Regions from separate parts of the Homo sapiens genome. Here region 1 is linked to region 2. The links come from fine-mapping of genetic effects on gene expression. A gene starts in region 2. The other region holds a variant in brackets. All regions are shown on one strand. Distances are between the middles of the regions. Region 1 overlaps BTRC (beta-transducin repeat containing E3 ubiquitin protein ligase). Region 2 holds the start of BTRC (beta-transducin repeat containing E3 ubiquitin protein ligase).

The links. PIP is the estimated chance that this variant, and not a neighbour inherited with it, causes the effect.
Region 1: its variant is the best candidate, but not a certain one, in a credible set for the expression of BTRC in whole blood (TOPMed, PIP 0.55).

What each region holds. Positions count from the first base shown.
Region 1 is chr10:101,548,674-101,558,788 of GRCh38, forward strand. It overlaps BTRC (beta-transducin repeat containing E3 ubiquitin protein ligase), which reads left to right. Exons shown (of 15, transcript NM_033637.4): 14 at 2,026-2,218; 15 at 4,482-8,640. The coding sequence ends at 2,187. Among named protein-coding and RNA genes, the nearest start is that of POLL, 35 kb to the right of the region's middle. The variant C/G (reference allele first, on the strand shown) is at 5,116.
Region 2 is chr10:101,348,633-101,358,747 of GRCh38, forward strand. It overlaps BTRC (beta-transducin repeat containing E3 ubiquitin protein ligase), which reads left to right and starts at 5,533. Exons shown (of 15, transcript NM_033637.4): 1 at 5,533-5,596. The coding sequence starts at 5,549. RefSeq lists an enhancer at 2,109-3,308 and a silencer at 5,577-5,756.

The sequences.
Region 1 (10,115 bases), 200 kb after region 2:
CCTGGGAGGCGGAAGTTGCAGTGAGCCGAGATTGCACCACTGCACTCCAGCCTGAGCGACAGAGCAAGACTCCATCTCCAAAAAAGAAAAACCAGGCATGGCTGGGCACAGTAGCTAAGGCCTGTAATCCCAACACTTTGGGAGGCCGAGGTGGGCAGATCACGAGGTCAGGAGATCGAGACCATCCTGGCCAACATGGTGAAACCCCGTCTCTACTAAAAATACAAAAATTAGCTGGGTGTGGTGGCATGTGCCTGTAATCCCAGGTACTCAGGAGACTGAGGCAGGAGAATCGCTTGAACCCAGGAGGCGGAGGTTGCAGTGAGCCAAGATCGCGCCACTGCACTCCACCCTGGGCGACAGAGCGAGACTCTGTCTCAAAAAAAAAAAAGCCAGACACAAAAGAATACATACTATATGATTATATTTATATGAAATTCAGTAAGAGACTAAACAAATTAATAACAATAACAGCATTGGGCCAGGCACAGTGGCCCACACCTATAATCTCAGAGCTTTGGGAGGCCAAGGCAGAAGGACTGCTTGGTCTTGAGTTCAAGACCAGCCTGGGCAACAAAAAGACCTAATCTCTACAAAAAAAAAAAAAAAAAGCCAGGTGTGGTGGCATGAGTCTATAGTCCTCACTACTTGGGAGGCTTAAGCAGGAAAATCACTTGAGCCCAGGAGTTTGAGGTTACAGTGAGCTATGATCACACTACCGCATTCTAGCCTAGGTGACAAAACAAGACTCTGTCTCTAAAAAAAATGATGATGATGACACCTGTAATCCCAGCACTTTGGGAGGCCGAGGCGGGTGGATCACGAGGTCAGGAGATCAAGACCATCCTGGCTAACACGATGAAACCCCGTCTCTACTAAAAATACAAAAAATTAGCCAGGTGTGGTGGCAGGCGCCTGTAGTCCCAGCTACTCGGGAGGCTGAGGCAGGAGAACGGCGTGAACCCGGGAGGCAGAGCTTGCGGTGAGCTGAGATGGCACCACTGCACTCCAGCAGGGGCGAAAGAGCGAGACTCTGTCTCAAAAAAAAAAAAAAAAAAAAAAAGATGATGATGATAAAATTGGAGTGGAGGTAACATTGTTTAGTAAGGGGTGTGAGATTGTTTTCCAGTATGCTGGGAACATTCTACATCTTCATCAGGGTGGTAACTGCCAGTGGTGTGCTAGAACAGGCTCATACTCACTTATGAGAGCCAACTATTAGATATTCATGAATTTTGCCAGCTGGTTGACTATGACTAGCTTATAATTGGCCATGATAGGAGTTTTTAATGCCGTGGAAATCTACCGATGGTTTTACAAAGTAGCAAAGTTTGGTTGATAAACATTTATCAGCATACTGCTTCTTATTGCTCACCAATCCTTGACCTCTGATTGTAGAAGGAACTTAGAAGATAAAAACCAGGGAGGTAGTAAGGAATGCTCTCATCCACCCTACGCCAAAAAGGGTTGGCCATGAGAAACTATTAATAGCATGCTATTTAGCATGTCTTGGCCAAAGAGTATTGCTTTGTTTACAGCTGCCTAGTATTTGACTTTTCCATGCTGCCTTTAGCCAAAGTAAATTTTCTCTATTTTTTTAATTTATTTATTTTTATTTTATTTTTTTTTTAGACAGAGTCTCACTCTGTTGCCCAGGCTGGAGTGCAGTGGAGTGATCTCGGCTCACTGCAACCTCCACCTCCCAGGTTCAAGCAATTCTTCTGCCTCAGCCTCCCAAGTAGCTGGGACTATAGGCACATGCCACCAGCCCGGCTAACTTTTTGTATTTTTATAGAGATGGGGTTTCACTGTGTTAGCCAGGATGGTCTCGATCTCCTGACCTCGTGATCCGCATGCCTCAGGCTCCCAAAGTGCTGGGATTACAGGTGTGAGCCACTGCGCCTGGCCTCTTTATAACAGCAAACCATAGCCTTTCCGTAGACTCCTTTTGACATGTTGCTGAATTTGTGTCCTATTGATTTTGAGTAGTTCAAGTTCCTACCCTTTTTGTTTCTACTTCTTTAGGAGCATTCCGGAAGAGTTTTTCGACTACAGTTTGATGAATTCCAGATTGTCAGTAGTTCACATGATGACACAATCCTCATCTGGGACTTCCTAAATGATCCAGCTGCCCAAGCTGAACCCCCCCGTTCCCCTTCTCGAACATACACCTACATCTCCAGATAAATAACCATACACTGACCTCATACTTGCCCAGGTATCGAAATCGATTATGTACATAACACTGTGGGTAGGAGACGGGATATTAGCTGTAAGGTGTTGCTAGTTCATGGAACTTTCTCCTGCCGTTTGGGTCACCAACTCCTGTAAAGCCGAGGAAGCAGACAATGTGAGACAGGGCTGAAGCTGCCACAGTGTGGACAGTGCCTTTCACCAAGGTAGCCAGCCTCAGTTCTAGATGATTCTAGGGTCCTACTTGTGTGGTAAGCCTAGTCATTCCTGCCCTAGTTATCTAGTAGTACTGTTATGAAAATAAAATGAGATTTGAATCAGTTTGAAAACTAAGTACTGTAATGACCCAAAGGCCTGTGATGTTTAAGTTCCCAGATCAAACAATACCTACAATAGAGACCTTTCAAGCCAAGTAAACAGTCTGATGTCTAATGTGTGAATGGAAACATCTCTTGGTGAAAGTTCACACTGACATATAAATAAAAGGGCAGATTTTAAAAGGAATATAAAAAGTAGCTTTTATATCCCTATCCCTATTCCTCAACCCTCCAAAAAGAGGACCTGTCTTTTGACCTCTGACCTCCACATGTCCTCCCACTCAAGTCTCCAACCTCTCTCTCAGGCAGGGGAAGATCCTAAAATACCCAGGTGGTCCATACATATTGTGGTATATTCAGATCATACCTGCTGTTCTAACCAGTTCGAATACACTAGGTTGTTACCAGTTTGAGAAGGCTGCCCTAGCTGCTGAGGAGCGTTGCTGTCAGGATTTGCCACGTGTGCCTCAGTTCTCGTGGCGGAAGTACATGTTCGCTACACGTTTCTGCATCTCTCTTTGCAGTGTTCCGCTGAGGACAGTGATTCACGCCCAGCTGGGCTGTCCTCAGCTTCTCTTTCTCTCACAGAGGACACGGTTCGTCGTTCCTCAGCCAGGTCGCACAGGCTGTGTGCCCTTAGACAAGTAACTTCCCAGACCCTGAATCTCTTGATGAGTAACGTGAGGGGCAGCACTCACCTCACGGAACCCTGTGAAGGCTGTGTGGAGATACTGCATGGAAAATTCCTAGTGCTTAGCACAGTGGCGAATACATAATATGCCCTCAGGAAAAACTGGTCATGAGTATTAATATTGCAATCTCCATATACCTACCCCCTCCTTTGCCCAAAATTTTCTCTTCCTTAGACTTCCGTGTTACTTTGCCATTTTTAATATTCTTCCTGACTCTCTGATTATTTGTGCTTCTTTCCCCCTCACTCCCAAGAGTCTGTTTCTGGCTTTTCTTATTATTTTTATTTTATTTTATTTTATTTCATTTTATTTTATTTTATTTTATTTCTTGAAACAGGGCTTCACTCCTGTCACCCAAGCTGGAGTGCAGTGGCACAATGTCAGCTCATTGCAACCTCCACCTCCTGGGCTCAAGTGATTCTCCTGCCTCAGCCTCCTGAGTACCGCGGGCACACAACACCATGACCAGCTAATTGTTTGTATTTTTTTTTTTTTTTTGGAGAGATGGAGTTTCACCATGTTGCCCAGGCTGGTCTCGAACTCCTGAGCTCAAGTGATCCACCTCCCTTGGCCTCCCAAAGTTACTGGGATTACAGGTGTGAGCCACCGCACCCGGCCTGTCTCTGGCTTTTCTTCCTTATCTGAGTTCCTTCTTAGGCTGCCTTCTCTATTCCCAAGGCTTCAGATCTCATCTCATTGTAGAAGACTCAAATTTCTGTCTCCAGTCCAAGCCTCTGCCTTAATCTCCAGGCCACATTTCCAGCTGCCATCCACACAGCTGTCCTTGAAGATAGCAAGAGCACTTCTAGTGCTCACATCCTCAACTGCACTGTCCCCTCCTTTACACTGCTGGTACCCTGCAGCCACACAGCCAGGCCAGCTTTCCTTGATTCCCCCACTTCTGTTACTGGCACCGCCATGCTCATGGCCACTCAAAAGGCAGGGCCCACAGACCATCCCCCACCCCTGCCCTGCCATTCTACAGGGCAAGTGAAAGCTATGCCAACCGTGGGCACTCTCAGCCTCAAGACATCAGAGTCACTCTGCTTGAACACCACAGCCCTGAGCATGTCAGCAAGCCCTGCCTTTAGTATAACTTCCCCCATCAGGCCAGGTCACCTTTGACAGAAGCTCCTGCATGGCATAGGCAGAGAGCAGGCATTAGGAAGGACCCCTAAGCCTTTTCCCCATTGGCAGCTAAGTGAATGTTCTTTTGTCTTCAAGCAAGTAAGAAATATCAAAAAAGGGGCTAATGACTATTTGCTCTGTTTTCACACAGGACCCATTAAAGTTGCGGTATTTAACGTATCTGCCAATACCAGGATGAGCAACAACAGTAACAATCAAACTACTGCCCAGTTTCCCTGGACTAGCCGAGGAGCAGGGCTTTGAGACTCCTGTTGGGACACAGTTGGTCTGCAGTCGGCCCAGGACGGTCTACTCAGCACAACTGACTGCTTCAGTGCTGCTATCAGAAGATGTCTTCTATCTTTTGTGAATGATTGGAACTTTTAAACCTCCCCTCCTCTCCTCCTTTCACCTCTGCACCTAGTTTTTTCCCATTGGTTCCAGACAAAGGTGACTTATAAATATATTTAGTGTTTTGCCAGAATCTCTCTTGCTTTGCCATTAAGCAGAAGAACTAGTTTCCCTGTATAGCCTGCTGGGAGAGACCCACTTCTAGGGTATGGGGGATGCAGCTTCAAGCCCAGTGCCCAGTGTCTCCCTGTTAACTGCAGGAATGCCAAGCACCTGGCCAGAGCAGCCCAGCCCCAATATGCTTAGGAGGAGACAGAGTTCCCTCTGTATAGCCTCTGGGACAAGAAAAAGAAAACACAAGAATGTATACACTGGAAGATTTGGGCCTCCTGCCTGCCTTCTCTTTGTTTCTGTTCCTCTTCCCATCTACTCCC[C/G]TACGCCCCTTCAACCTTTTTTCTCTGTCTGCTTCACCTGAGAAGAAAGTGTACGAAGAGAGTGTCCTCCTCTCACATGAGCCAGATCAGCCAGAAAATGCAACACTTGGAAGAGTTAAATGCTGTTCAGTGAAGATTTCAGCCCCAGGCCTTTGCTGCAAGTGACCCTGTGGCAACAGTGGATTCTCAGACATGATACTCTCATCATATTTGCAACTCTTCTCTCTCTTTCTTCCCCACACCCAAGAGGAGGATTGGTGGTAGGGGGCAGGCAGAGGGGGTGGGGAGAAGTTTCCTGGGCTCCATCAATGGCTGCATCTTTTCTGGACTCAGCAGTCTCCTTGATTCCATGTAGAGTGTGGAAAGGAGTTGCTGATTGCATTTCCTCTCATTAACAATTGGGTGTGTAATAAAAAGCATTGTACTTCATCTTAAATCACTGGTAAGGCTCAGCCTACAGAAAGATTTGAAATGGCCAGAGCCAATCGCTTGGTGCATTCTGCGTAATGGTTTCCATCTCCGATTTCCTCATCAGGGCCTGTGAATACCCAGGTGCCTGTATCTTTGCCAAGACCGTGATCAAGGTAGCTTAAGAGAGATGGTCAGGAGAAAACACTGTTTTTGTTTTTTTTGTTGTTTTGTTTTGTTTTGGCCAGTTAAATATCATCTCTCAAATATTGATCTCACCGTGTCAACCTTGCACTGCACAACCTTCCTTCTGCTTCTCCCACACCCAGTATTTGCAGAAGGGCAAAGCTGCTTAAGAGAGAGGATCAGGGTGAAGTTTGGCACACAGGGTTTATTAATGGGGCAAAAACTGCCTTTTCTTCCTCCTCCTGACCTTATTTTGCTCTTCACTCTCCCCAGCCAATAAAGCGTCTGTGGCGATTGGTGAACAGCATAAACAGCTGGACCTCAGCAAGGGTCAGGCAAACCCAGTCACTCGGAAGGCAGCTGTGTGAGCTGCCAAGCTAGTGGGCTTCAGGTGCAAGGGTACCTGTGCCACACCAACCTGGGAGCACACAGAATACTATTAATGTGCACCCAGCTGGTCTCCCCAGGCAAGAAGGTATCCTCTTCCCAAGGTGTACCCACTGAATGTTGTTACTACATATTGAGAGTCATTTTATGCATATGCATTCTACCTTTCCTGCTTTATGAGTATTTTTAAGCTTTTAGTTCAAGGTTATATTCAGAAAATATTTCCCAGTATAATGATACATCGTAGCCTAAGAAATATTTTCTCAATGTAATTCCCTTCCCAGCTACCCAAATGCTACAGAGAAATGTTTTCTACTTGGCCACTATCAGGGTTCGTCATCTATTGTGTTGACTATTAATGGCTTTTTGATTGGGTAAGGATTTTGCTATAGATGAAGGTAGAGGGCTGTCAGCCCTGAAAAACACACAGGTCAGACATTTAAAAGGCATGGGTTTCGAGCTGTCTCAAAATATTGCCCAATAGCCATAATTTTACCAGCCTTTCTGTCATATGCTGCTATTACAAAGTGGAAGCTGTTGAATGTTTATTGGTGCCCAGGGTTTTGCTCTCCAATCTAGGTTCAGTTGAAGGAATATTGTTTCTAAGACTGTTTTGAGACATGTCCAGTACATCACAAAGGAGATCGGGGCGACCCCTGCAGATGTGGAGCCATTAGCCCAGTTGAGGATATTCTCCAAGTTGTCCTCTCTCCTGCTGATGGAAATGGGAATGAAGTTAAGTGGTCTGAAAAACTTGAATCGTTCACATTTCTCAGCTCTGGGGGTCATTTACCAGTTTGTTGTAGAAGAAATAATCAGGTAAGTTAAAAGTTCATTTCCAGAGAAGGTAAACCCCACTTACCATCTCTGCATGATTTCAGTGGGAATTGATTATCACTAATCCCCAACTGGGCTAGAATAAATGTAAAGTTTGACCTTTTTAAAACGAAAAGAGAGACAAAGTCTCAGCACATTCCAAGGAGTGGTAGAAACAGAGCTGAAGGTGTCCCCATTGTAGATTAGTCTCTTCTCACTAAAATTTACTTTCCAACGTAGGGCCTAAAGGAAACCTTTCTTAAAGACAGGCTGAAACCCCTTCAAAGGCAGATGAGGAGGTACAGACACGTGACCTTTTGGTGCACACTGGAGCTACTTGGACAAGACCAGCATGCCTTGCTGCACGTGTGTGTATTTCACTGCTGAGAACATCCTTTAACTTGGTGTGCAATTTGAAAGGATGTGAATCATGGATGGAAGGCCATTTGTACATGTCCCTTGGCAAAATTCTTTCTGGTGTCTCCTAACTTCAGAGACAGGGACTCTTTTTGGATCTCTATTGACAAGTAATAAAAGTCTGGCCCTCATAACTTGTTTCCGAACTAGAAAAGTCTGTGAGACCCCTACATCATTCTGGTTTTTTTGCTTGAGTAAGAACAATCCTTTTTTATTTTTCTTCTGTACAGTCTAAAGCTACAGAGAAAAAAAAATGCACTCTTCCCTTGCCGGCTCCTGGTACCATTGGTCTGAACAGCTGTAGTTGGTCTACTCCTTACTTAGCACTTGATTGTGTGGGGAAACAAAGGTGGGAGGGGTGGGGAATACTGGAAATAATCAGGGCAATTTTTTTCTTTCCCATAATTGGACTAGATACCTTGGTACTGTTGACCTTCTCAGCATCTCCCTTTTGCCTTAGATGGCAACACCCTCCAGTCTGTAGCAGAGCAGTCCAACCCAGATTAGTGCAGCCCGGAGGCTTAGGGTGCAGCCTCCCTGGTCTTCCTCCACACAGTTGTTCACCAACAGACCAGACCTCCTTTAACCACAGTGTCAACATAGTATCGGAAAGAGAGCCATTTCTTAGGGGAATAAAACAGTTTCGCTTCTTTAGCTCATCTGTGGTGTCAGAATCCTTGGAGCTGAAGAGAGAAATCAAAAGAGCATGATGATGGCTGCCTGGTTTCAGGTGGAACTTAATGCATTGATCTTTAGAAGCTCCTTCTGTTGGAAGTTGAGTACCTGTGATCTAAAATGTCCTGGAGGCAGATGACATCTAAAATATGTGCTTTCCAACCAGCACAGCTGGCGCTCTTAGCTCCTGATTGGTTGTGTGTTTTATTAAGGATCAGTGCAGTTAAGTCGTATTTTAAAGTGTTACCTCCCCTCCTAACCCTTCCCCTTCTTGGACACTGAAGGAAAAGGCCAACTAGGGTGTTAGCCCTCTGGGCACCAAGGAAACTAACAGCTTTCTCAAAGCGGTGACCACTCAGGCCAGCCCAGACAAATCTGAGGGATGGCCAGTGCACTCCAATGATGGGACAGGCCTAACAACACATGTAAGCTTCCCCGAGAGCTTTCAGCTGGTTCACCTCTTTGTTCTCTAGACTCTTAAGTACTGACTGCTTTGACTTTTGTGATTATGTTATGGTGATGTGTAGTCAGTGTACCAATATGTTCACAACCTAGGATCATGATAATGGAGTGTGTTTTGGGTTTTTTTTAACTGTTCAGAAAAAAAGTAAATTACAAATATAAGATTAAAGTGAATTTTCTAAGCGTCTTGTCTCCTTGCCCCAGCATCCAGAAGGGCAGTACACTTTTCAGTATACAGACTGAGGGAGTGCAGAGATAGAATACCTTTGCAGATAATCTGACATGAGAAAACAAGATTGAGAGAAAGCAGGGCTGGATGCTGTGGATGAGTGTGGGGTCCCTGGCTTACGCCTACTGTTCCATGTTGAGTTAAATTGAAGCCAAAGTCATGTCTCATTTGTGCATTGGTCACCTTAGCCAACCACAGCCCAACCTGAATGCAGAATTTACATTTTTCTCTGCCCCTCAGCTGTGAAAAGACTTGAGTTTCCCCTACATCCCATTTGATCAGTTTATAGGCAAGCAAGCTCACATCTGGGAGCAATTTCCAGAGGGGCTCCAACAAGCTGTAAGAATGAAGGCACCCTTGACTATCTGGGATATGACATTGCAGTTCTTGAGTGAAACCCCCCTTCCCTCCTTCAGCCAAACCTGGAGAGGTACAAGGTTGCAGGCAGTGGCCGAATGGGACTATCTCTCCCCGTTGGCCCTGTACCCCTCCCCTCTCTAGTGTCACAAACAGGATCCTTGTCAAAATTGACCCATCCTTCTTTTAGATCTATGGGCTTTTTGTATTAATAACCCTTCCACATGACCAAGGCTCTCTGGCTTCCATCAGCCTTGTAGTCTCATTGTCTTGTCTGGACTGACCACTGGCCATGAGCAATCTCAGACTGTGGTCAATATCAGGGCCGCTGTGCAGAACCCTCCCTACTAGAGCTGGAAGAATGTCAGAGCATCAGGTCCACCCAACCCTTGGCAGATGAGGAAACTGAGGAGAAAGAAAAGGGACCCACATTGCCCAAAACTACACTGAAGAATCCTCCCTAACAACTAAGGGCAGGCAGCACCCAAGAGAGAGAAGGAAGGGAGGGAGGTGTCAGAGGAACCACTGTGGGGCCACTGGTATCTGCTCAGTTAATATTCCTCACCAGCTGGGCTCCTGAGCAGAGGCTGAGCCTAAGAGTTTGTGGACCTCACCCTCAAACTGTGTCAGATCTCTTCCCCAGGAAGGGTGTGGTCTAGGGCCTGCCCTGGCAAGTCTCAACCCTATAGCCGTGGTTTCCTACTCCCAGGCTGGGCCAGGAATCCCTCCCTGCTTTAAACCTATAGCTGTGCCACCATCAGCAATGACTAAGGGGAGGAGATCTCTCTTCTTCCTGATTGGCTCTTGCCAATTAAGAGCACTTTATTAGGCTGCTAATTAAAGGCACTTCGTTAGCAGCAGGAGAGGCCAAGTGGGTGCCTGGTGAGACGGAGGTGAAGCCTGGAGAAATTGTTTTCGTCCCCCCATGGAAGCAGAGCCTCTCAGGGAAGCTCTCAGTCCCCACCCTCTCCTGCTGCGCCTACAACACCCCTTGCTTTCAATTAGCAACTCTGAGGGGAGCAAGGTGATTACCAAACCCAAGCTGGAACCCCCCACCACCACC
Region 2 (10,115 bases):
GCCTGTAATCCCAGCACTTTGGGAGGCTGAGGCAGGTGGATCACAAGGTCAGGAGTTTGAGAACAGCCTGACCAACATGGTGAAATCCCGTCTCTACTAAAATACAAAAATTAGCCATGCGTAATGGTGTGTTCCTGTAATCCCAGCCACGCAGGAGGCTGAGGCAGGATAATCCAACCAGGGAGGCAGAGGTTGCAGTGAGCAGAGATCGTGCCACTGCACTCCACTCCAGCCTGGGCAACAGAGCAAGACTCCATCTCAAAAAAGAAGAAGAAGAAGGGACTACCTTAACCTTTCTCTGCCAATTCTAAACTTAACTTTATTTGTCCTCATACGCTCCTCCTCCTGTCTCTCAGAGGAGGCTAATCCCTCCATCTGTTCCTAGATCCCTTTCTGTCCTGTCTTCTCAGGAACTGTTGCCATCATTATCCTCTTTCTTTCATCCTTAGCCTTTCTCTAATGGATCCTTTCTATCAGCATTTAAATATGCTCAAGTATCTCACTTCATTTTATTCCCCAAGTTTAAATTTTGGAAAATTTCAAACCCTCAGAAAAGTTGCAAGAAGAGTACAACGAATTCCTACAACCCTTCACTTAGATCCATCAATTTTCCTTTTTTTTTTTTTGAGACAGAGTCTCTCTTTGTCACCCAGGCTGGAGTGCAGTGGTGCAATCTCGGCTCACTGCAACCTCCATCTCCCGGGTTCAAGGGGTTCTCCTGCCTCAGCCTTCCATGTAGCTGGGATTAGAGGCACACACCACCATGCCTGGCTAATTTTTTGTATTTTTAATAGAGACACCATTTCACCTTGTTGGCTAGGCTGGTCTGGAACTCTTGACCTCAAGTGATCTGCCCACCTTGGCCTCCCAAAGTACTGGGATTATAAATGTGAGCCACCACACCCAGTCAGATCCATCAATTCTTAACATTTTGCCACGTTCGCTTTAGTTGTCTTTCTCCCTCCCTTCCTCCTTCCCTCTTTCTCTCTCACTCCACATAGACACCTTCCTTATTTCCTAAACCAATTGAGAGTTAGCTGCAGGTATCATAACATTTCACCCTAAATACTTCAGCATGTATCATCTAAGACATTCTCTGATTTTCTTATTCTCACAGTTATCACACTCAGAAAACTTAACATTGATAAAATACTGTTATCTAATACACAGCCCATATTCAGTTTTTCCCTGACTGTTTCACTAATGTCTTTATTTATTTAATTTTATTTTTTTAAGAGCTGGGCATGGGGCATGGTGGCTCACGCCTGTAATCCCAGCATTTTGGGAAGCCGAGGCGAGTGGATCACTTGAGGTCAGGAGTTCAAGACCAGCCTCGCCATCATGGTGAAACCCTGTCTCTACTAAAAATACAGAAATTAGGCTGGGCGCGGTGGCTCACGCCTGTAATCCCAGCACTTTGGGAGGCTGAGGCGGGTGGATCATGAGGTCAGGAGATAGAGATCATCCTGGCTAACACAGAGAAACCCCGTCTCTACTAAATATACAAAAAATTAGCCAGGCGAGGTGGCAGGTGCCTGTAGTCCCAGCTACTTGGGAGGCTGAGGCAGGAGAATGGCGTGAACCTGGGAGGCAGAGCTTGCAGTGAGCCGAGATCGCACCACTGTACTCCAGCCTGGGCAACAGAGCGCGACTCAGTCTCAAAAAAGAGAGAGAGAGACAAGGTCTTGCCAGGTTGCCAACCTGGTCTTGAACTTCTGGGCTCAAGAGATCCTCCTGCCTTGGCTTCCCACACCTGTGTGTAAGCCACTGCACCTGGCCCTATTAATGCCTTTTATAGCTGTTTTCTCTGCTGTGTATCAGTGTCAGTGTATGTGTGTTGTTCCTGTGTCCAATCAGGGATCATTCATTGCATTTAGTTGCCATGCTTCTTCAATTTCCTTTGAACTAAAATCTTCCTTCTTTCAGACAAAACAATGCTTTCCTTAGACTCTCAACTTCTACATCCCACCACTGTGCTAGCTTTTCTCTCCTTCCCTAGATAGCCACGTTTTGTAAAGAAGAGACTCAGCAGTCTTCATATCCTCACCTCCCTCTTCAACAGGCTGCAGTGTGGCATCTGCACCCCCTAACCCCTTCATGATCCTCACTCACCAGACTTTCCTGCTACCTCTCTGGTCACTTCTTGGGCTACTTTGTAGGCTCCTCTTCCTGTGCTCGTCCTATAAATCTTACAGTTCTTTAGGACCCTGTCCTAGTCCTGTTGCTCTTTCCACTGTTTATGCTTTCCCTGGGTGATTTCTTTTCTTTCTTTATTTTATTTATTTATTTTTTTGAGACAGAGTCTTGCTCTGCCACCCAGGCTGGAGTGCAGTGGTGTGATCTCGGCTCACTGCAACCTCCACCTTCTGGGTTCAAGCGATTCTCCTGCATCAGCCTCCTGAGTAACTAGGACTACAGGTGAGCACCACCCCACCCAGCTAATTTTGTATTTTTCATAGAGATGGGGTTTCACCATGTTGGCTAGGCTGGTCTCGAACTCCTGACCTCAGGTAATCCACCTGCCTCAGCCTCCCAAAGTGCTGGGATTTCCAGTGTGAGTCACCATGCCCAGCTCCCTGGATGATTTCATTCTTTTCGGGGGAAGAAGCGGGAGTGGAGTTTCATTTACCACCTACATGCTGGAATCCCTATTTGTAGCCCAGGTCTTTCCCTCCAACTTCAGTTTCAAATCTCCAATGGCCTCCTCAACATCTGAATCCACTTAGAAATCTCACAGGCACCTTGAAGCAATATGTCCAAAAAGAGAACTGATTATCCTCCTACCACTTCTACTGTGCTTTCTGTCAAAAAAAAGAAAAAAATACATATATATGGCATCCCTCATTCATTACCTGAGCCAGATACATAGAAGTCATCTTTGACACATCCTTTTGACATCATCCATGACACATCTAATCAATCACCATACTCCACTGATTCTATCTTCTTAGTATCTCTGGAATCCATCTACTTCTTTCTGTTCTCACCACCACATTCAGGCTGCCATCATCTCTCCCAGGAATATTTCAGCAACCTCATAATCCTTTCCCCAAGCTTCCAGCTGTGCTCCATTTTAATCTCTCCTCCACCCTGGACTCTGAGTGATTTTCTGAAAATGCAAATCTGACCATTTTTTAAATTGTTCAGCTAGTTTCTCACAGCTCTCAGGATACAGTCTAAATGACTGAACTTGGCCTATAAGCTGGAGTGAAAGTCAAGGTATTTTATATCTGGTAAGGTACAGGCCCTGATGCCAGTTTAGAAAGCATGTCAGCTGATTTATCTGACCAGTTTATGCCGGCTAAATAATGGCTTGCCTATAGAGCCCCATACTCTTCTGCAGTCTCATCTAGGGCCACTCTTCCTCTAAAGTCCCACTGATCTTGTTTTGGTTCTCAGAATCAATCACCAAAAATGCAGTTACCTTTGCCTGGAATACTCTTTTCCAGTGGCTGCACCATCATCCCACCTTATCTTTTCATTTATTTATTTATTTATTTTTTTTGTAACTCCATCCTGTTACTGCCTTAGTCCTCTGAAAACCTCCAGCTAGTTTTCATACGAATGCGTTTGAAGTCTTCTCCATTTTGCACTTGTGTAGAATTTTTTTAAAAATTCAAGAACAAAACTTTTTATTAACTGAAAGCCTATTATGTATTAAGTATCATGCTGAGTTTTGTGGATATAGGGGCTAGGACAAAGTATCAACAGAGTAAAAGTGTAAGCTCCACGAGGAAATAACTGGGTCTGTCTTGTTCATTAATGAATCCCCATTCCTTTTTCTTTTTGTTTAATTAATTACTTTTATTTTTATTTCAATAGTTTTTGGGGTACAAGTGGTTTTTGGTTATATAGATGAATTATAGTGGTGAAGTCTGATATTTTAGCCACCCAAGTAGTGATGAATCCCTATTTCTTGAGATGATGTCTGCACACGGTTATATGCTTACCATTTGTTGGATGACTGAGTGAATAAGATAGTTTAAAATGGAGATTTTTTCCTATAAGTCAAAAAGTATTTTCCTAGTTCATTTATTTTATAAATTCAGATATTTTGTACAAGGCTGTCACAATCTAACTCACTTTTTTTTTTTTTTTTTTTTAGACAGAGTCTCGTTCTGTTGCCCAGCCTGGAGTGCAGTAGCGTGATCTCGGCTCACTGCAACTTCCGCCTCCCGGGTTCAAGCAATTCTCATGCCTCAGCCTGCCGAGTAGCTTGAATTACAGGCGCGTGCCACCAGGCCCGACTAATTTTTGTATTTTTAGTAGAGACGGGGGTTTCTCCATGTTGGCCAGGCTCGTCTCGAACTCCTGACCTCAGGTGATCCACCCGCCTTAGCCTCCCACAGTGCTGGGATTACAAGCGTCAGTCACCGCGCCTGGCCCTAAATCACTTTTGTTGTTGTTGTTGTTGTTATACTGTTCTTTTTCATTGCTAAGTAATATTCCACTGTGCTACATATGGAATATGCTACAATTTGTTCATACAACCACCTGCTGAGGGGCATTTGGGTGTGTGTCAGTTTTTTAGGCTGTATAACCAATTATCACAAACATAGCAGCTTAAAACAACCTAAATCACTTTTAACCAAACCCTAGAGTTTTCTCCTCCTAAGGTAGACCCAATTTCCAAAATAAACCCATATTGTACCTTTTCAGGCCAAAGAAAATATTTATATGCTTTATTTGCTGGAGGCCATTATATTCCACCGTTGAAGGACTTTTGTTAAGTACCTGTTTGACCCTTAGTGCAGGGCTTACATCCCACAGTTAGCAATAGCAAGTTATGTGCTTTTTGAGCTCTAAACACTGAGAATTTCTTGAACCGAGTTCTATTCGGCCCTGACTTGCTGTGGGGGAGAAAAGATTCCTCGGGAGAAGTGTGGGTGGCGATGGCTTAGGAGGACCTTGAAATTCCGCATTTGTCTGTGAGCTGCTGCCAGGTGCCCATTGGCCCAGCTACTCTGGGTCGCAAACCTGCAGATGCCAGATACATGAAATTTGGGGACGTTCAGCTTCCTAAAACCACAGTTAGGCAGGTCCTAGGACCCGTGATTCTTGCCACAGTTTTTCTTAGTATTTGGGCTACAAGTGAGGCATTGGCCGCCATCTTGATATCAAATGCCAGGCAAGCCGCTACTGGCGTCGCTCGGTAACCACGGAGACACCCGTGCCCCTCCCGTTTCTCATCCTTAGAGGCTGTAAACTACAATTCCCATCAGCCGATTTCCTCTGCGTAATGGCAACTTATCTAAATCTGGCTTGTGGGCAACCGCAACGCTGCCGCAGTGAACTGTGGGAGTTGCGGTTCACGGCGTAGCCTCAGTTTTTTTCCTGGGGGAAGTTCCAGAACTACAAATCCCGTGAGCCAGTGGGCTTTCGCCTGCGCACGGAGAAGCCGATTCTCCTTGGCCCCTCAGCCTGCGCCTGAGAGGTAAGAGAGGGCGGGGGGAAGGAAGAGGAGGCGGGATCCGGGCGCTGCGTTGGCTGCGGCCTGGCACCAAAGGGGCGGCCCCGGCGGAGAGCGGACCCAGTGGCCTCGGCGATTATGGACCCGGCCGAGGCGGTGCTGCAAGAGAAGGCACTCAAGTTTATGGTGAGGAGACGGTGGAGGCCGGGGAACGGTGGAGGCGCTGGCGTTGGCGGCGTCGCTGGCCTGGGCCGCCCGCCCACTGCGGGACCGGGCAGCGGGACCCTGGGCCGAGGCTGGCGGCGGAGCGGCTGGAGGGATGGGATGGGAGCTCCAGAAAGGAGGCTGGGGGTTGCGGAGCGGACCCAGGGGTGGGGGCAGCGGCTCCGCCATCTTGTGGATGAGAGGCCAAGTGACAGCGGGAGCTTAATCGAGGAGGGGGCTCCAGGCGGCGCGCGGGGCCCTGGAGGGAAAGGGGCGTGGGGACTGTTACTGAAAAGCGGAGGAAGCTCTCTGGAGAAACGCCGTGAGGCCGCTGGCGGGGCCTTCCTGGTGTCAGGGTTACCGGTAAGGCCCGGGAGAGGAGGTGCATTCACGACTGGGGAAGGGAGCGCGGGATAGAGTGAAGACAGATACGGTGGGTAGAGGGGAACGGGCAGGGCTGGATGCAGATGGATTTAAGGGTGGAGGAGGGAACGCTAGGGCTGGTGAGAGGCTTATAGTTTTGTAGAATGAGGAGGGAGGATAGCCTTTGCCTTGAGGGTGGAATCCCAGCTTGGCCAAACTACTGTTGACAAACTCTGGAAGGGAAGAGGCCTCACTAAAGAAGATAAGGACTGGGAATGAGGACCTAGGGCTATAATGACAGTCCCTGGGAGGGGAAAAGGGTGTTGACTGTAAGCTAGAATTACAAATGTCAGGGAGGGGTACATAACGCTACTTTGAAAGGAGAAGCTAAATACTGTAATAAGGACAAGGTGATGAAAAGTAAGAGCAGATTGTCAGGGAAACATGGGTACAGGAGATTGGGGCAAAATGAGTATCTAATAGGGTAAGCAAAACAAAATTTAAAGGTAAATTGTGGGACGGTAAAATGTGGAGGCCAGGTGCTTTGTATCATTTTCTGGGAAAGGAAAGGCCGTGGAGATGAGAGTTGCAAAGACCCATAAGAAGTGATGAGATCAGTTGAGAAATTTAGGAGATAAAAAGGGTGGAGGTTGGTAGAGGGAAGTAAGTCAGGGATAAGTCAGGATTTGTGGTTACCCGTCAGTTTTAGGTTGAAGCACAGTGTGAGCAAAGATTGGATTTTGTGGGTGTGCTTAAACCCCTTGGAACATATTTCTTTAACTTTGTATCACGCTTTTCTTTTTGCTGTGCTTATCTTTGGCAAACTCGTATAGTCTGATATTTGATGCTTTTAATCTGATGCTTTTTGTATTTCCTAGGTGTAAAACCAGACTTTGTGGTTACAACTAAAGAATGATGGAATGCATAGATTTTAAGCTTAACAGGTGGCCTTAGGGACATTGATATTATTTGCAGTCCAGTCTTGCTTTTTCAGAAGTTATTGTGACTTGTCACTCCAAATCTTACTCCTTTGCTTAAAAAAATAGCTATTTTGTATCTTTGCCTAAAATACCGTAACAAATCCAGATAAACATGGATACTAACAAAATTGAATTTTAGACTTTAAACTGCCCCATTTATAAGAATACTTTTTTGGAATCTAGTCAAATTCACTAAAACTTTATCTTGCATTAGTGTTTTCGAAAACACCTAATTAAAATTCAGGGGTATCATTAACAAAATTTCATTGAGCCTGAAGAAGGTTCTTGGATTTCTGCCCAACATTAAAATTCTAAATATGAAGAAGAGACCTTGAACTTTTACTGGACTTTAGAAGTAAGTGAAAGTTACTACACTTAAGTTAGAAAACTGTTACTGCTTATTTTTGTTTTCCTACTTAGAGGGTTGACTCCTTTTTTTCTTCTTTTGAGATGGAGTCTTGCTTTGTCGCCCAGGCTGGAGTGCAGTGGTGCAGCCTCCGCCTCCTGGGTTCAAGCGATTCTCCTGCCTCAGCCTCCCGAGTAGCTAGAACTACAGGTGTGGGCCACCACGCCCATCTAATTTTTTATTTTTAGTAGAGTCGGGGTTTCACTATGTTGGCCAGGATGGTCTCATCTCCTGACCTCGTGATCCGCCCACCTTGGCCTCCCAAAGTGCTGGGATTTCAGGTGTGAGCCACAGCGCCCAGCAGAGGGTTGACTCTTAATCCTAATCCTGACATTTGTGTCAGATTTATGGAATAATGTGATTTACAGATCATAAAGAGACATTATGAGATCATCCTTTTTACTCTCAGTTAGACTTCAGCCTAGTAACATTCTCAGCTACTTAATCTCTGCTTTGTACCAGTGAGTTATGTTTTGATAATGGCCTCCCTGGTTGAGTTAAAGTGGACTTGGAGATGACCATATAGTAGTTGCAGCTTTTAGAGCACCACACATTATTAAATCTTGAATCAGTTTTCATAGGGAGAAGCCAATTTTTTCTTTTAATTTTAGTTACTTTCATTATTGACCTTGCCTGCTGTTTTGGCTGCCATTTGAGAAAAGGTCAACTAGAAGAGGGTCACCAGAATGACACCTTAATAAAAGAAACAGAGAATGGAGAGTTTGAGATTGGGTATTCTCTTTCAGTGCAGTAACAGTCTTATGAATCTGAGTAAGTCACAACTTCCCTTTGGTGCCATTTACCCTGCTATAACATGTCTGTTTATTCAGAGTCAGTTTTAAGAAAGGAAGATAGGCCGGGTGCGGTGGCTCATGCCTGTAATCCAGGACTTTGGGAGGCCGAGGCAGGCGGATCACGAGGTCAGGAGATCGAGACCATCCTGGCTAACATGGTGAAACTCCGTCTCTCTAAAAATACAAAAAATTAGGCGGGTGTGGCAGCGTGCGCCTGTAGTCCCAGCTACTCGGGAGGCTGAGGCAGGAGAATGGCGTGAACCCGGGAGGTGGAGCTTGCAGTGAGCCAAGATCGCGCCACTGCACTCCAGCCTGGGCGACAGAGCAAGACTCCGTCTCAAAAAAACAAACAAACAAAAAAGGAAGATATTGGCCAGGCGTGGTGGCTCATGCCTGTAATCCCAGCACTTTGGGAGGCTGAGGCGGGCGGAACACGAGGTCAGGAGATTGAGACCATCCTGGCCAACATGGTGAAACCCTGTCTCTACTAAAAATACAAAAATTAGCCAGGCCTGGTGGCGCGCACCTGTAGTCCCAGCTACTCGGGAGGCTGAGGCAGTAGAATCACTTGAACCCAGGAGGTGGAGGTTGCAGTGAGCTGAGATCGTGCCATTACACTCCAGCCTGGGTGACAGAGCGAGACTCTGTCTCAAAAAAAAAAAAAAAAAAAAAGGAAGCTATTTGAGCTAGCATCAAATAATTAGTGCACAGTACACATGGAAGAACTATCCTTTTAATCAAACGGGCATTTTTATTACTATTTGGCTTTGTTCTGGTCTTAACCTTTCCCTCAATTGTGAATCGCTAATGACAACTTTTATACAGATGTCATGATTTCCATGGTTTAAACAAATGTAAAATTAGTTTAAAATGCCAGAATGAAATGGATACTCTCACAAATTTGCTCATTGCTATACTAAAGTGCCTTGATAAAGAATTTTACAATAAAATCCTGTTAATAAGACTGCTGATTCAGAGATGACCATAATTCACACGTGATCGAGACTTAAAGCTTATTGTTTTACTTGTGAAAAAAGTTTAAGCAGAATGTTTAACTTTTAAAAACAAATAAATGATATTGAAAGCAACGGTTTACATTAACTTACGTGCTAATGTCTCTCATTCAGCTTTAGCAGGTCCTCAAGGACCTTTCTTAATACTTTTTTGGTTAACAAAAGTATAAATGGAAACTTGAAGAGAACCTAAGAAGAGAAATGAAAATGATTGAGGGAATATAGACCCCAAAACACACAAACACACACACACAAGCACGTTTAAGATAGGGGTTGAAAAGACATACTGAGGAGGAATTTGAACTTTATTTTTGTTTTCACCTTTGAGACAGGGTCTCACTATGTTGCCCAGGCTAGAGTGCAGTCATAGCTTGCTGCAGCCTCAAACTCCCAGGCTCACATGATCCTCCTGCCTCGGCGTCTCAAGTGGCTACAGGCACACACCACTATGCTGGCTATTTTTTTTTTCTTTTTTGTTTTTGTAGAGACAAGGGTCGCCCTTTGTTGACAGGGGTGGTTTTTGAACTCCTGGGCTCAAGGGGTCCTCCTGCCTTGGCCTCCCATTGTTGGGATTACAGGCGTGAGCCACCTTGCCAAGCCACGTTTATTTTTAAAAACAGGATAAATATATTCTTGTCCAGCCAATCCCAGAATCAAGTACAGTAGCTTGAAATAGATGAAATAATTTTAGAATGTATTGTTTTATTTATAGAGCTGATAGATAAATGAAACAGTATAAAGGGTAAATATTTGCTGTTTAACAGACAACCTCAAAACTTAGCTTAAAAAAAACAATTATTTTTCCCCTCAAATCTGATGGTTTTTCTGCTTCACTTGGTATTGGCTGAGGTGTGGGAAAGACCTTCACTTCTCCTCTATATGGGCCTTTCTCTACCTGGCTGCTTGGATTTCCTTAAAGTGTGGTGGCAAGGTTCTAAGAAGGGA